Linked DNA regions of Homo sapiens. The protein of the gene in region 2 purifies or fractionates together with the protein of the main gene of each other region. This does not show direct contact. Each region holds a gene or a part of one and is shown on either strand. Other genes may lie near its edges.

What was found.
Region 1: the proteins of WBP2NL (region 2) and OTUD4 purify together in Homo sapiens (affinity purification with mass spectrometry; 3 studies listed by BioGRID and IntAct, with this or other methods). This does not show direct contact.

What each region holds. Positions count from the first base shown.
Region 1 is NC_000004.12:145,177,570-145,185,068, forward strand, and holds the start of OTUD4 (OTU domain-containing protein 4), read right to left. Parts: upstream 3,021-7,499; 5' UTR 2,405-3,020; coding exon 2,246-2,404; intron 2,112-2,245; exon of another isoform or gene 2,010-2,111; intron 590-2,009; exon of another isoform or gene 559-589; intron 1-558.
Region 2 is NC_000022.11:41,993,788-42,001,806, forward strand, and holds the start of WBP2NL (postacrosomal sheath WW domain-binding protein), read left to right. Parts: upstream 1-5,000; 5' UTR 5,001-5,031; coding exon 5,032-5,093; exon of another isoform or gene 5,094-5,355; coding exon of another isoform or gene 5,356-5,513; intron 5,514-6,645; exon of another isoform or gene 6,646-6,860; intron 6,861-7,228; exon of another isoform or gene 7,229-8,019. Other genes in the region: SEPTIN3 (neuronal-specific septin-3), read left to right, coding at 503-554, 834-927, 3,115-3,180. UniProt on the Homo sapiens protein: May play a role in meiotic resumption and pronuclear formation, mediated by a WW domain-signaling pathway during fertilization.

The DNA.
Region 1 (7,499 bases), on a different chromosome or scaffold from region 2:
TTTTTACTTGGGACAAGATAGTGATAAATACTGGGAAAGGCTGAGACACTGTTTTAGCAAGTCCTCCAAGACTGCCCTATTTTTAGCTCCATGGCTGTGGAGCTGATTCAGGTCAGGCCTCCGGCAGGCCCAAATCCGTAAGTGTAAAAAGGAAATGGCCTATCTAAATCAGATAATTTGGAGAGAAAGACCAAAATCCTAACTCGAGTCTCCTCCCCGTCTTTAAAAACTGCCACTTAGATTATTTACTTTGATTCCTTCTTAGAAATGATGAGTATTTGTGATTTTATAGGAGAAATTGTTGGCAAAAAATATAAATTATTGGTACACATTTTAAAAGGGAAGCCTGACGCTGGTATTACTTCCTTTTTCCCACACACACACACTTTGCCTTTGGCGATGATGGCTATAACTGTAGCCTACTGAATAACTGAACTTCCCCCAAAGTTCAAGGTCTTCAGCTAAGCTCATCAGACTAAAACTGAGTCACATAACTGGGAAGGGTAGTCCCTTATGCCTAACCTAAACCCCATTACAAAATACAATAAAATGTGTTACCTGATGTAACAAAGAGTTCTTAGTGTAAACTAGCTCTTGCCCCTTTTCTACTTAAAAACAGAGATCCCACTATAATAAAAGAGGCTTCTGTATAATCAAGGCCACCGAGTATCTATGGTATGCACTACGGAAATCAGGCACACCCTTCTGCTTCAATATAAACTAGGACTCAAGATAACTCAAATCCAAGTAAGCGCCAAGCTTCCCTTACCGCCATTTATTTCTACCTCCTTGCTTACCAAACTCTTGCTAGGTCTAACAGTACGTTATAAATACGGGCTGAATTCACTTCCACCTCTTCCCTAGGCTTCTGGAGGTGCTGAGGAGTCCAAGGAAGCAGGACAGACAGAGATTCAGAAAATTCACAAATGGGGCAGACTATTTACCTACTAACAATAAGGACCGGAGGCAGTGGGTGGCTGTGAACATACCCCACAGCAACACTGAAAATGAGAAACGGACAGAGCCTGGTTTGGGGAGCTTTTGGAAGAATTTTTCAATGACAATGTCCGCAACATAAAGCAACGGTTTGTGTCCGTTAAATCAATTTCTTGTTTTAAAGAAAGATTTTACGCTACCTATGGTAAATAAATGGCTTGCCTTTCAATGTTTAAAAATGAGAACAGACTGGCCTCCACATGTTAAGTAAAACATTTACTCACAAATAGAAATTTTAAAAGTTATTTAGCATTCAAAAAAGGTGAGGGAAAAGAAAACAGAAACATCATAAAAACCCCACAGGCGGGTAGGGAGGGGTGTGCAATGGGGTGTGGGGAGCAGGTCCTAGGTCAAAGGAAAGCACATGTGAATCGTCTGAAAGACACACCAGAGCAGAAACTTTTATCCAGCTACTTCGGCAGCTATTTTTCAATATAGGATGGGTTTTGGTGACTGCACACCTACAACACACAGTGTTATATAACATGGAATAAGCTCGCTCAAAAAAAAAAATTCAGAAAAATCTTCCTGAGCAACTGTGTTAGAAAATGGTTTTGAAAAGCTCCAGTTACACGTACCCTTTCTACTACCAACATCAAAACAGGCTTTTTTAAAAAAGTCAGTTCTGTTTAGTATACCTACACAGCCCAGCAGAGCATAATAAAGGGTGGAACCTACTCAAGACAAATCCTTCAAAATATTCTATATTTGTAAAAGGCTGGTTTTCTCAAACGGCAGTTTGCCCATTTGATTCAAGTGACATGGGCGAGCTTGCCTACCCTACATTCCAAAGTCCAGCAGCAAACCAAAATATGTTCCACAAGTAAAGTTTGATCCACCACTTCTAGTAAACACTTGGTTTACTGGAGTGGGGTGAGCGTGGTGCTTCTCAAACGAAGGGAAGGAAGGTGAATGCGGAACAAAAGTAAAAAATATCATGTCGCCAGGTCCCCAGCAATAAATCAACTGTACAAGCTCCGAGCAGGCCTCACAAGTTGTCCTCAACTCATTACCTCTTCATCAGGAGAGAGACACCCCGTTAATTTGCGGGCTTTCGAGTTTCAATTTGCACCTTTCAGACGCAAAGCAGCGTCCCACTCCGGCGTTACAATGGGGCGCTGTGACGACAGCCAGGGCACGCGCAGCCCCGGCCGTGGGCGGCCCGGACAGCCCGCAGCTGCCTCCCCACCCAGACCCGCCGGGCCGTCCCCGCCTCCCCTCGAAGCCCTCCCCGCCCCCCCGCAATTACCTGCTCCGCCACGGCCCGGAACAGGCACGACCCGTCCTTGGCGACCAGTTTCCGATACAAGCCCAGTTTCCGCAGATAGGCGTCCATGGGCGTCGCGTCCTCGCGGGGCCCCGCGCCGCCCTGGTCCCCGCCGTCGGGGACGCCGACGGCAGCCTCCATGTTGCTGGTCCTGCTGCAGGCCAGGCGCGGCGAGGGCTAGCCCCACATGGCCAGGCCGCCGGCTGCTCGACGCCCCGGCCTGGGGCAGGCGGCGGCTCGGGCTGGGGCTCGGGCTCCGCGAGCGGCGGCAGGCGGCGGCGGCCCGAGGCAGCGGTCCGCGCTCTCCGGGCGCATAGGGAAGCCCTGCCTAATGCATGGCTGTCCGCACGCGGCCGCCTCCTCGGAGCGAACACGCGCCCACGACAAACGGGGGGAGCGGGATTAAGGAAAACCCCGAGAGTGAGTAGTCACTTCCCGACGGCCTCGCTGCCTGACTCAGGACCCAGGCCGGGGGTCGCCGCCCCCACAAGTTTCCTCCTCCGTACCGGTGTGAAGCGAGAAAACCCCCGCCCCTGGCGCGCACGCTGGGCCGGCTCAGGTGAAGCGGGGCCTGCGCCCCCGCGCACTCCCCACGCCGGGAGCCGAGGAAACCAAAAAGAAAGACGCGGCCTTTCGTTTCCCCACCTCGCTGGAGGGCGCCGGAGGGGCAGGGAGCGGGTGGGGGCGCCCGGGAGAGAACAGCACCTCGCAGCCCAGAATTTGTTTTCGCTTTCGGCCCGACAGCGGAGAGGACGGCGGGAGATGTAGTCTTGGCAGCCGCAGGAAGTCGGCTTGCGGCGGGCGGGGACGCGCTGGCCGGCCTACCCGGGGGAGGTGCCCGGGAGGCGCGCGGACTACAAGTCCCTACAGCGCGGGCGCGCCGCCGCCACCGCCACCGCCCCAAGCCGGCTTCGCGCTGCACTGGCGCCGCGTCCGCGAGCAGGCCGAGGGGCTCCGCCGGCCGATGTGGGGCGACCTGCGCGCGCCACCCGCCAACCCTGCCGCTGCGCCGCGGGAATCGCGCGCGCCGGGCTGGCGTGGAGTTGCCAGGGACACGGCGGCGCAGTGTCGGCCCTTTGTGTATTTCTTTCCAGAGGGCGCACCTGTCTGCTCCCTTCCCCCCGGCCTGCTCTCCTGGTGTTTCCATGGAGGTGGCTTTAACGGCTTAAGCAGAAAATAGAGCTAATTGGCTGAGGCTCCGGGAACTGGCACGGTGCGGGACGACACACTCTGTCCATAAATCAACCGTGGACTGCTGATTGCTATTAGTAGTACAGCTCACGTACTACGGCAAGATGAAGGCTTTGCCAAAGACATTTTTGTTCACCCTGTCACTGTAGCTGAGCACCCCATCACAGAGACATGTCACTGTCGGAAGACGTTAGGGTTTTTTTTTCCCCCTTAAAAAATTCATCTTGTAAATTGCTTGATAACATGCTGACTGGACTGGCCATGGCTTCCACCAGTGCTCGAGGCTTCAGCTCAACTTCCCACCCTCCGACGTTGAATGGCAGGGAATTGACAAAGTTAAATTATGCTTTAGAACCCAGAATTTATCCAGCATGCTTCTGTTGCACCAAAATTTTATTTTGCTAAGATACAACATCTGGTGTCCTTATTTAAATACATGGTTAATCATAGGAACTAATTCAGTCTTTTAGGCTATGGTGGAGGAGAGGGAGAAGAAAAGGGAGCATTACTATAGGTTTAGACATGTAGTCAAATACCTTGGAATGGGGGGCAAGGCAGGCCAGGTGGTGAGAGTCCAACGACAAAAATTTTTTAAAAACTACGTTAGACACTTTTCAGTATTTTCAGTGCAAGCAATCAGTCATGTATTCACTTTCCTTGGAGCGTCTTTGATTTCTTAATGTTTAAATATTGTATCTCAAATTATGCTGCTTTTAGAGAATACAAACGTTATCGTTACCTAAATGAAAAAATGTCCCTGCCTCAAATTTACTTGTTGTAGCGAAGAAACACTTTGAAATCAGGTTTAGAAAAGTATAGTTTCAGCTGGGCGTGGTGGCTCACGCCTGTAATCCCAGCACTTTGGGAGGCCGAGGCAGCCCGGTCACCTGAGGTCAGGAGTTCGAGACCAGCCTGACCAACATGGAGAAACCCCGTCTCTACTAAAAATACAAAATTAGTCGGGCGTGGTGGCACATGCTACTCGGGAGGCTACTCCCAGCTACTCGGGAGGCTGAGGCAGGAGAATAGCTTGAACCCAGGAGGCAGAGGTTGCGGTGAGCCGAGATCCCAACATTGCATTCCAGCCTGGGCAACAAGAGCGAAACTCCGTCTCAAAAAAAAAAAAAAAAAAACGGAAAAGAAAAATATAGCTTCAAGTCAAACCTGTTGCTTTTCTTTTTAAAATACACTTACATTGCATATACTTCTCATTCTTCTCAAAAAAAAAAAAATTCCTGAGTATTGCCACTACTTAAAACATGGATCGCCCTTGTTTTTGAGTTTAAAAGCTTGCCTTTTAAACTCAAAGAGAAACTCAAAGTAATATCTAAACTCCTGCTGAATGAATGTAGAACAACCTCACTCTAAGCTGGCTGCTTCTGGTTCCAAAATTAGAAGTGATGCACCTGTTATATCTGACCCTGGGCCTGTTTAAGGAAATCCTTTAGGTATTTTGAGACTTAATCCAAGACAGACCCTCTGTATGCCAACTTCCCAAATATAGCTCAGCGTTAAGGCAATATTAGAGGATCCTATGTCTTTAAACTGCACCAAAACTTAGAGAAACTCACTTAACTTTCAAAGGATCTTTGCTTGTTGACATTAACTTCTGAACCTTTTCAAGAAACCAAACCAGAGTTGATGAATGTTTATTCTAAGGAAGCCATTTCTGACTGTGTGAAGAACTCTAAACAGACATCATTTTAATCAAATAATACCTGAAAGATTCAATGCTTTTGAGACCTAATGAAATTATAAAATTAAACTTATGCAAAGGAGTCAACCAACTTTTTTCTTCTTGTGCAAAGTCAATGCCTTAAGTTTGTTTACTCTGACAAACTTTAGGGCTAATAATTGTACTAGATAGAATTTTTTAAATTGTTTTTAAACTTCATAGATTGATAGATTTTATGGAGTTTTGTTTTTTCCAACAATACCTAAGGTTAGGTATTGTAGTAGGCAGCCTCTAAAATGCCCCACTCCCGACCCCCACCAAGTGATTCCCACTTCCTGGTATTCACACTCATATAATCACCTCCACCTTGTAACAGGATTGGTCTGAGTGACCAATAGAATAGAGCAAAAGTAGTGGTATGTCACTTCTGAGATTAGGTTATAAGAGACATTTTTGGCATTTTGATTGGCCTCTCATACTCCCTGTCTCATGGGTCACTCATGCTGGTGGAACCTGGCTGCTATGTGTCAGATTTACAGAGAGGTTCCCCTTGTAAGAAACTGGAGCCTGCTTTCCTCCAGCAGTCATGTGAGTCAGCTTTGAAGCGAATCCTCCAGCCCAGTCAGGTTTTCAGACAACTCCAGCGTTGGCCAAAATCTTGACTACAACCTCAGGAGAAACCCTGGCCAGAACTACCCAGATAAGCTCTGAAATTCTTGACCTCAGAAACTGGGTGAGATAGTGTTTATTTTAAGCTCCTAAATTTAGTCGTAATTTGTTACATGGCAATAGATAAATAATACAGATATAATTCTTCATTATTTGTCTTTACTAGATAGAGAATGAATGCATTTTGACAATTCGTGAAAATAATCACTAGTTTAGTATCCGTGGTTGTACCAGTTCTCTGAATTCTAAAGATGAAAAGGTAAGTTATTTTACCAAAGAGTCAAAATAGTAAGTAATAGGATTTCTTTTGAATCTATGAAATCTCTTACAAAAATAGAGTAACCTAAGAATGTCTTTATTGCCACATAGCATTGTTTCATTTTCTACAAAAATTCAAGTAATGGAATCCTACTCAAAAAATGTATTTTATGAAGAAAGACCTGTTTCTTCTGGATCTTATCTGCCAGAGGCTGCTAATTGTCGTTCTCCACTTCCCATTTGATTTCCCCTGAGTTTTTGCTGGGCCCATGGGCACCCAACTTTGGGCTATATCTCCCAGCTACCTTAGAACTAAATGTGACCCTGTGATTGTGTTTAGGTCAATGGGATGTAAGCAGAATTATTTAACTTCCAGCTCATCTCCTTAAAGATGAAGCTTCTTGCCTTCTACTCTCTGTCCTACTTCCCATGAGCTGCTCTGAAAACATGGTTGAAGGCCGAGTGCGGTAGCTTACGTCTGTAATCCCAGCACTTTGGGAGGCCCAGGCGGGCGGATCAGCTGAGGTCAGGAGTTCAAGACCAGCCTGGCTAAAGTAGTGAAACCCCATCTCTATGAAAAATACAAAATTAGCCAGGCTTGGTGGCGGGCACCTGTAATCCCAGCTACTGTGGAGGCTGAGGCAGGAGAATCACTTGGACCTGGGAGCCGAGATCGCTCAACTGCACTCCAGCCTGGGCAACAGAGTGAGACTCCATCTCAGAAAAAAAAAAAAAAAAATGGTTGAAACTAGTTAGCCAGCTTTGCCGGGCACAGTGGCTCACGCCTGTAATCCCAGCACTTTGGGAGGCCGAGGCAGGCGGATCACGAGGTCTGGAGTTTGAGACCAGCCTGACCAACATGGTGAAATCCTGGCTCTACTAAAAATTCAAAAATTAGCTGGTTGTGGTGGCACACGCCTGTAATCCCGGCTACTCGGGAGGCTGAGGCAGAAGAATCGCTGGAAACCGAGAGGCGGAGGTTGCAGCGAGCCAAGATCCGGCCATTGCACTTCAGCCTGGGTGGGCAACAGAGGGAGATTCCGTCTCAAAAAAAAAAAACAAAAAACGAAACTAGTTACCCAGCTTTGATCATGCAAAGACAACACCGTAAGATAACAGAGCAATGAGATGGAGGACTGAGCTCCTGAATACTTCATAGCCTGTGATCCTTGAACCAGTCCTCTCCAGACTGTGAGAAATAAACTTATTTTACCAACCGTTGCTGCTGTTGTTATTATAGCTACTTAGTCTATGTATTCTAGCACATTTCCCCCTCAAATATTAAATAAGTGATAACATTTGGGACAAATTAAATTTATTTATAAGAGTTTCTGAGTTGAGCAGAACATAATTCTTTTTTTTTTTCTTTTGAGACAGAGTCTGTCACCCAGGCTGGAGTGCAGTGGCACCATCACGGCTCACCTCCCCAGGCTCAGGTGATCT
Region 2 (8,019 bases):
CTGGCCCCATGTCTTAATCCTCATTCTGTTCCAACAGTGCTTGGCCAATGATTTGCAAATACTAGGTATTCAATATATGTTGAATTGGATTTGTCATGTAGTGCATGACCTTTTTAAAATGGCTCAATTATTATTTTCTCTGTGTTACTTCCAACCGGATTATAAGCTTCTGAAGAATGGGAAGTGTATCTTAGGCCTTGGCCAGTTTCTCAGACTTGGTATTAGTTTTCTCTTCTATAAAATGGTAAAAATTATAGTCCCTCTTGGCTATTATGCCACAGCGTCTAGAAGGATGTCGTGCCCATTGTAGCTGCTTAATATTTGTTCAATGAATCAAATCCAGTACACCCAAGTGAGCAAATCTCTGGAAGGGTTACAAAAAATGACCTGTCCCATAGCTTTCTCCTAAATGCCTCCGTGACCCAAACAGAAGCTCACCTCCTGGGTGTTGCTGTATTAATGAACTGACTACCTGTTTTGCTTTGTTTTGTTTTGTTCATAGTGGAAAACCTCAACCACTGTGAGTTTGCCCTGCTTCGAGACTTTGTCATCAGGTAAGATGTCTCCCCTCCAGCTGTCCAGACAGCAGGTTGAATTATTTGGGGTCAGGGTCTATCTGTTCAGATTCACCTCCTGCATCTCCAGGTCTCTCTGACAGAGCTTTCTGCCCCAGTTCCAGCTCCTGTTGCAAAATGGAAGGTGCTGTAGAAGAATCCTTAGCTCCTGGGAGTGGTTCCCATTCACTGGGTCCAGTCCCTCGAAGTGATGTGTGTCACCGCCTCCTCTTCCTGCCCCTAATTGCAGCCCTCTTCTTCTCACCCTGTGTCCTCTAGGACCCACCTCCAGGACCTCAAGGAAGTGACACACAACATCCACTATGAGACTTACAGGGCCAAGCGGCTCAATGACAATGGAGGCCTCCCTCCGGTGAGCGTGGACACAGAGGAAAGCCACGACAGTAACCCATGACGACCACTTCTCTGTGTCATCACACATACCCACTTCACACACACACATCCCAAATACCACCACCAACCACCTTCTTCCTCTCAACTCTGTCCCACAGGCCTGTCTGGTATTTGTGGAGCATCTTGTCTGTGTGTGTGTGTGTGTGTGTGTGTGTGTGTGTGTGTGTGACAGAGAGAGAGCGAGAGAGCCTGTGTGTGTGCATGCAGGGGTGAGGTATTTTCACTGCCCTCCCTGGAGAGTCCCTTGTAAGTTTGGCTCCTCCATGCCTGTCCATTATCTGTCTCCTTTCCTTGTGTCCCAAAACAAAGCTGTTTGCCTCACTCAGGAGATCTGGGGGAGGTTTCATTTAAAAGTGCTGGGAGCAGGTGAGCCACAGGCAACTCTTCTCTCGGAACCTGCACACAAACTGGGGCTATAGAGATTCTCCAAGGACAGATGGCAGTGGAGCTAGACCTGAGTAGGGGGCAGGGAGTTCAGGACAACCCTCCTGTAAGTTGGGGGTGGTCTGGGGGTAAGGCTGGGGCTTCCTGGGAAAAGGAAGGCCATGAGAAGGCAGAGAAGTAGGCCAGAGCTGGGTTCTTGCAGAAAGCATCAGTGCCTACAAATGGAGCTCCACCCTTCAGTCTGTGTCGTGTTCAGTGTCACAAAGCTACCACCTGTCACCAGAGCCTACTGCTGCTCTCCACTCAACTGGCCTCTGCTGCCAGGCCACTGCCTGTCTCTGCTTCCGACTTTGTCTTCTTTCTCCCTTTCCCTCCTTCCCTCATACATTGCTTTCTCTCCCTCTCCTGCGTGTCTCTGACATCTCTCACTTCCTTTTAGATGAATCTACTTTAGGTTCATTCCTATATTTAGCATTTATGCCCAGTCTACTTCCAGAAATGACTTTAGACTGCCTTTCACATAAAATCACAAAACTACAGGACAGTACAAACAGATTGCCAGAGAAATCTGGGTCAAAGAAAGGAATAGGAAAGAAAGTTTCTGTAGTCAAGCACCTGAACAGGCCCTGAGCTCACAGGCAGCCAATGTAAAGAGGGAAACACAGTGAGTTATGCAGTTCCCAGTGTCCAGTTAAAGGAAGCACACATGCTAGTCATGTGAGACAACCTTTTATTGGGACATCAGGTTCTAGAACTAATTCTAAAGAAGTATCAGAAACAATATACATAATTTGTCTTTCTTAGTAATTTGGCTTCAAAGACAAATTTTTGACCACACCTCCGTTTTCTCCGTCAGACTTCTCTCCCTTCTAAGCAGGCTTCTCTGTTGCTCCATTTGCTTCATACATACTTGACCTCTCTTTTCTATTCCCCATCACTTTTGTGCTGAAGCTAATCATATTTATGTCTGTCTTTCTCTACTTTTCCCTAATTCCCTCTCCTCCTGACTCCTGTAGACATTCCCAATGATACCCACCGTCATACATTTAGGCTTTTCTTGCCTTTCCCTGAAGCCCTGTATTTATTAATGCATATATTTCCCCTGCTTGTTGTACAAGTAAGTTACTCTTTTCCTTTAATCTGTAAGATTCATGAAATTCGGGGCCAGGGAAACAGTTTAGCCTTAGGGAAGGGAAAACACTAAGTGAAACTGTTTACAATAACCTCATACAACCTTCTGTCCCATCTCCTGGTTCAGCCTAGGTGTTTCACTGGTCCTCTATGAATCCCAGCACTTATAATCCCAGTCTTTTATCACTCAGGTGCTAGGAAAAAAAACATAGACTCAAGACCCAAGATTCAATGGACCAGGAGAAAGGGGGGCGGTGATCAGGTCACCAGTGACCCCAACCTATGCTCTCGGTCTTTCCTGGAGGCTGCCAACCCAGCCCTCATCCTCCCTTGCTCACAAAGTTACAGGGTAGGCACCTGTCAGGACAGAACAGCAGCAGCGCTACAGCCCAGAGGTTATACATTTCAACAGAACAGGGATCCTTGGCTACTGTAGAAGCAGTCCTGTATGGAGACCTTGGACCAGCAGGGGAAGATCTATGGGCATGGGAGGTGGGCGTTGGAAAGGCTGAGTAGGAATGGTGCCTGGCACCCCTGAACCATGATCTGAGCCTCCCTGGAGAAGGTATTTTATATGTCTGCTGCCAGCTGCTGGTCTCCACACCCTCAACCGTTCTCAACCCCCCTGCAGGGAGAAGGCCTCCTGGGCACTGTCCTTCCACCTGTGCCAGCCACCCCCTGCCCCACTGCTGAATGAAGGCCATTTCAAGCGCTGCTTCTCACTCCATTCCTCTCAGCTGTTATTGCTGCAGGGCCAAGCCCTTTTTAGTGCTGTGCTCGTCCAGCTCACCACCACAGCCCCTCTCAGCCCTCAGTAGGTGGGAGGGGCCAGCTGCCTCTTTAGGCCAGTTGCATCCTCCATTTATCCAAACCACTCCTCTCCTCCCAGTGGAGTGGGGTTCTGCCAGTACAGCCCTACTGCATCATCTGCGTCAGCCGGTCCTAGCCCATCTGCAGGGTGAAAGAACTCATCAAGAGCTCCTTCTGCCCTTGTAAGCCCATCCCAGCTACTTGTAACCATCTCTAAGGGCAATGGCATTGCTCCCTACCCATTCATCTGCATGAGCTACTCTTGGCTTCCTTAAAGGGTCAAGAAAGCAATTTTTCTGCTTACTAGATTCATTGAGATCAGCTGTGTGAGCCCCAAAGTGGGACAAGGGTGTCTCCTTCATTACTTAAAGATATTCATGAGGGTGGGTCACTACAGATGTTGGGGAGCAAGGGCTAGGATCACTTTTTAAAAAATCACCACTTGTGGCTGTCCCAGAGTGCGGTTGTACATCCTCCCCACCTCATAACGCAGCCACTGAGGAAGAGTGGTTTTCCTAAGAAGACATTGCTGGAGTTGACTTTCTTCTGTCCAAACAAACAAACAAAAACTAAACACACACACAAACCCCCAGAAACCCACAATATGTACACGCTAAGGAAAAACTAGCACCCTTCTGTCCACTCAGCAATAAGAGGGATCTCTTCCCACCTACCCTACCTACTCCTACCCCCAACCCCCTTCCCCATTAATGTGAGTAATGAATTAGCCTGACCACAGGTGGTCACTGTAGGCTAATGGAAAATACCCAAGGGAGGGCAAAGCCCCCCATCAGATGCATGAATGTTTGCGAATGTTGACTGCCACTGCCCCACACACTGTGTCTTTATAGAATTCCCCTTTGCCCACCCTCTTCCTGTCTCCACCTGGACACAACTTGCTCAAAGGCTGGTGACTTGTGGGCCATTCATCTACAACCAAGTCCTGATGGAGCAAGAGGCCCACGCCTAGGGGATGCAAGAACAACCCGTTTCTTAAATGTTACCAGTCCCAGCCAATCTTACGGTGACATTACAGTTAAATTTCCCAATTGAAAACAAGCAAACAGACACTCAAACTGGTCCTGTAATTGTTGCTAGACTTTATGTGTTGTACAACTAAACATTGCTGTTTGAACAGTAACTGCCTGGCCTGTCTTATTTGTGCTCCTTGACCAAATCAGCCATTATGTCATCTCACCCATGTGTGGAGGGTGAGACTCTCTTGGTAAGAAATAGCCACAGATATTAGAGATGAAAACACTTTGTGAGGTCAGTTCATCTTCAGTTGGCGTCAGGTCGGGCCTCAGTCATTATTTTCTAGTGTTTCATAACCAAAGTGAGTAATGGATGGGAGGTTGAGGTGGGAAGATGGCTTGAGCATGGGAGGTTGGAGGTGCAGTGAGCTGAGATCATTCCTGACAGGACCAACCCAAGTCCATACCTAAAGGCAGGGGGCTAAGGGGGCAGGTGAGGTCGGGAGGCCACTCACCTATCACTCACCCCTTCGCGCTCGAGCCAATTCTCAGGGCCCGCCTCTTTCTCCCCTTTCTCGGCGGGGGCCTCTACCCTGACTCCGCCCCGCTCCCCGGGCACTGCCCCACCACGTGACCCGGTCTCGCTCCTCCTCCTCCTCCTCCTTACGTCATAATCTCCGCCCTCCCCTTCAGAACCGCGCCCCACAGCTCGGCGCAGGTCCCGCCCCTTTCCATCTACGGGGCGGCAGGAGGCCCGAAGCAAGATGGCGGTGAATCAGAGCCACACCGAGAACCGCCGCGGAGCCCTCATCCCTAACGGTGAAAGGTGCCTGAGGGGAAGCACGGCGTGCTGTCGGAGGAGAGGAGACGAATGAGATAGACATGGCGGCTCGCAAACTCTCAGCGAGTCAGGGACTTTGCCGCCTTTTTTGGGCGCGGCGCTCTTAGCTCCGCCCCCGACCTTTGGGAGCGCGCGCCCCTCACTGGTGTTCCGGCATGTGGAGGTGGCGGAGGCCGGAACGCGTGGCCTCGCGCGTTTGAGGGGTGGGGGTGGGAATGCGCCTTTTCAAGGCGCGGGGCCCAGACGCATGTCTCCTCAGGGCGGGGCGGGGAGGGGGTGCGAGACGCGTGTGTCCTTCGAAGAGAGGCCGGAGCTGACCGGCGGTTGTGAGCAGCCGGGGGCCTTCGGTGGCAGCGTGGCTGCCCTTGGGTGCCTGCGACTTTGTTGGATGAGGACAGGTACTGGGTGTGTATCTCCTCCTACTTCCACGAACAAGGTGTCGCTCTTTGGTAAGAGGGATGAGGAGGTCGAGTGTGGATCATTCTGGAAAGATCTCAAACTGTTGTGGGGCTTCTCCTTGGACCTGGAAACTTTCTAAAGCCATGTTTCCTCCTTGCTCCAACCAGGGAGATGTCTGCTTTTAAAAACAAAATTGAAAAAATTGAGGCCAGGTGCAGTGGCTCATGCCTCTTATCCCAACAGTTTGGGAAGCTGAGGTGGCCCAGGAGTTTGAGACAAGACTGGGCAACATAGTGAGACCCCATCTCTACAAAAAGTAGAAAATTAGTGGGCCATGGTGGTGTGCACCCATAATCCCAGCTGCTTGGGAGGCGATGGTAAGAGGATTGCTTGAACCCAGGAGTTTGGGCTGCAGTGAGCTCAGATTGTACCACTGCACTCCAGCCTGGGTAACAGAGCCAGATCCTGTCTTAAAATAAAAGATGGGACTGAACAGATGCCTGGGCACAACAAAGCACTGTTGGTCGCAGGAAGCTGTGGGGCTTACACCAGTTGCTTTGCTCCTTGCGGTGCCTGCTGCTGGCCCCTGAGCTCTCTACTGGAGCAGACTCAGCCAGAGGGGTGCCCATCTCCACCTTCAAGCACACTTGTTCACTAAGGCCTGACTCCACTGCGCTCACCTCTTTACCCCACACGCCCCCTTTCCCGTTTCCTACACTCAAACTCAGTCTCCCCCGCTGTGCAGTTCTAAATTGCGCTCCTTTCTGGGCTCTGACTTGCCCTCAATTTCCTTTTCTCCCAACCAGCATTGAAACTCAAGCTGGATGATGTGCTTGGGGCCAGCACACTCAGGTCAGTTTGAATGTAGTTGTCAGGAAGATCGAAGTAGACGTTACCAAATGCTGATATCCAGGTCTTTCTTCTATCTTTCCTTCCTCCAGAAAGTTTTCTTGACAGATTTATATGGGCCTTAGAGGTTGTATGTTCTCACCTGCTTCCTACGTACCTCTGCTGCTTTGTTCCATTTTGTGGTAGATGATTGCTCACCACTCTGACAGTGGTGTCCCCGTGAGCACTTACTGAGAGCCATTTGAGCACTTGTCATTCCATGGTGTGAAGCCTTTCTTTTCTTTTCTTTTTTCTTTTCTTAAGATATTTTTATTTCTCCAAATTTGTTATTTATTAGGAGTGACTGAAATAAAAAACATAATTGAGTCCCATCATCATCATCATCATAGAAATGGCTTTAAGAGAAAACTGGTCAGATGACTATTATTGCTTCCCATTTCCAACCAGTGAATAGTTGCCACTGATAAATTGACAGCGAGGAGTCTGTCAAGAATGCTCAAGATAGCCGGGCGCGGTGGCCCACGCCTGTAATCCCAGCACTTTGGGAGGCCCAGGTGGGTGGATCACAAGATCGGGAGTTCAGGAGCAGCCTGGCCAATATGTTGAAACCCCATCTCTACTAAAAATACAAAAAAAAAAAAAACAGCCGGGAGTGGTGGCGGATGTCTGTAGTCCCAGCTACTCAGGAGGTTGAGGCAGGAGAATTGCTTGAACCCAAAAGGTGAATCACCCAAAAGGTGAACCAAAAGGTTGAGGCAGGAGAATTGCTCCACCAAAAGGTGGAGGTTGCAGTGAGCCGAGATTGTGCCACTGCACTCCACCCTGGGCAATAGAGGGAGACTCCGTCTCAAAAAAAAAGAATGCTCAAGATATGTCATATAATACAACATGCCTGTTCAAAGGGGGAAAAATCTTAGGAAATAACTTACATGTACTTCTTGGTTTCATCATACAAGACAAGCACAAAAGCACCACCCATGCCTCTGAGAACACTGGACCATGCACCCTTGAAAACAGCTTTGCTTCCTTCATCATGAGTAATCTTCCTCCAGCAGTCAAATGTGCCTGTGTACATGATGTCAGTTCCTTTGCATCCTGACTGCATCATCATGTAGCAGCAAATGGTGTTAAATGAATAGGAAGTCAACCCAGCAACGGCAGTGACAGTCTGTGCATCATCCAACTGATGACAATGTGAGTGTTCTTGGGATCCGGAAGCATTCCCTTTGCAGTGTCATAGTTACCGAAGTAGGCAGCAGGCAGCTCGGTAGATAATACCCTGCACAGACACGTTAAAGCCTTGGTACAGGCTCTTAATCCCGTCAGATTTGTAGATCTTAACTAGGCAGTCACCGAAACCTCGCAATTCCCTTTCAGCTCCAGCTTTGCCCACATCAGCTGCTACACGAGTATGGGCAAAATCAAGAGGGTACACAAAACACAAGGATGTGGCCCCAGTGGCACCGCCTGATGCCAGATTCCCTGCAAAGTAGCGCCAAAACTGGGATCTCTTGTCCACACCATCCAGGAAGATCTGCTTGTATTTATCTTTGAAGGTGAAGTTAAGAGCCTGGGTGGGGGAAGTATCTGATGACACTGGCCAGGTTACCGCACCAGGACAGGACTCCGTGCTCCTTGGGAATACAGACCATGCAGTCTCTAA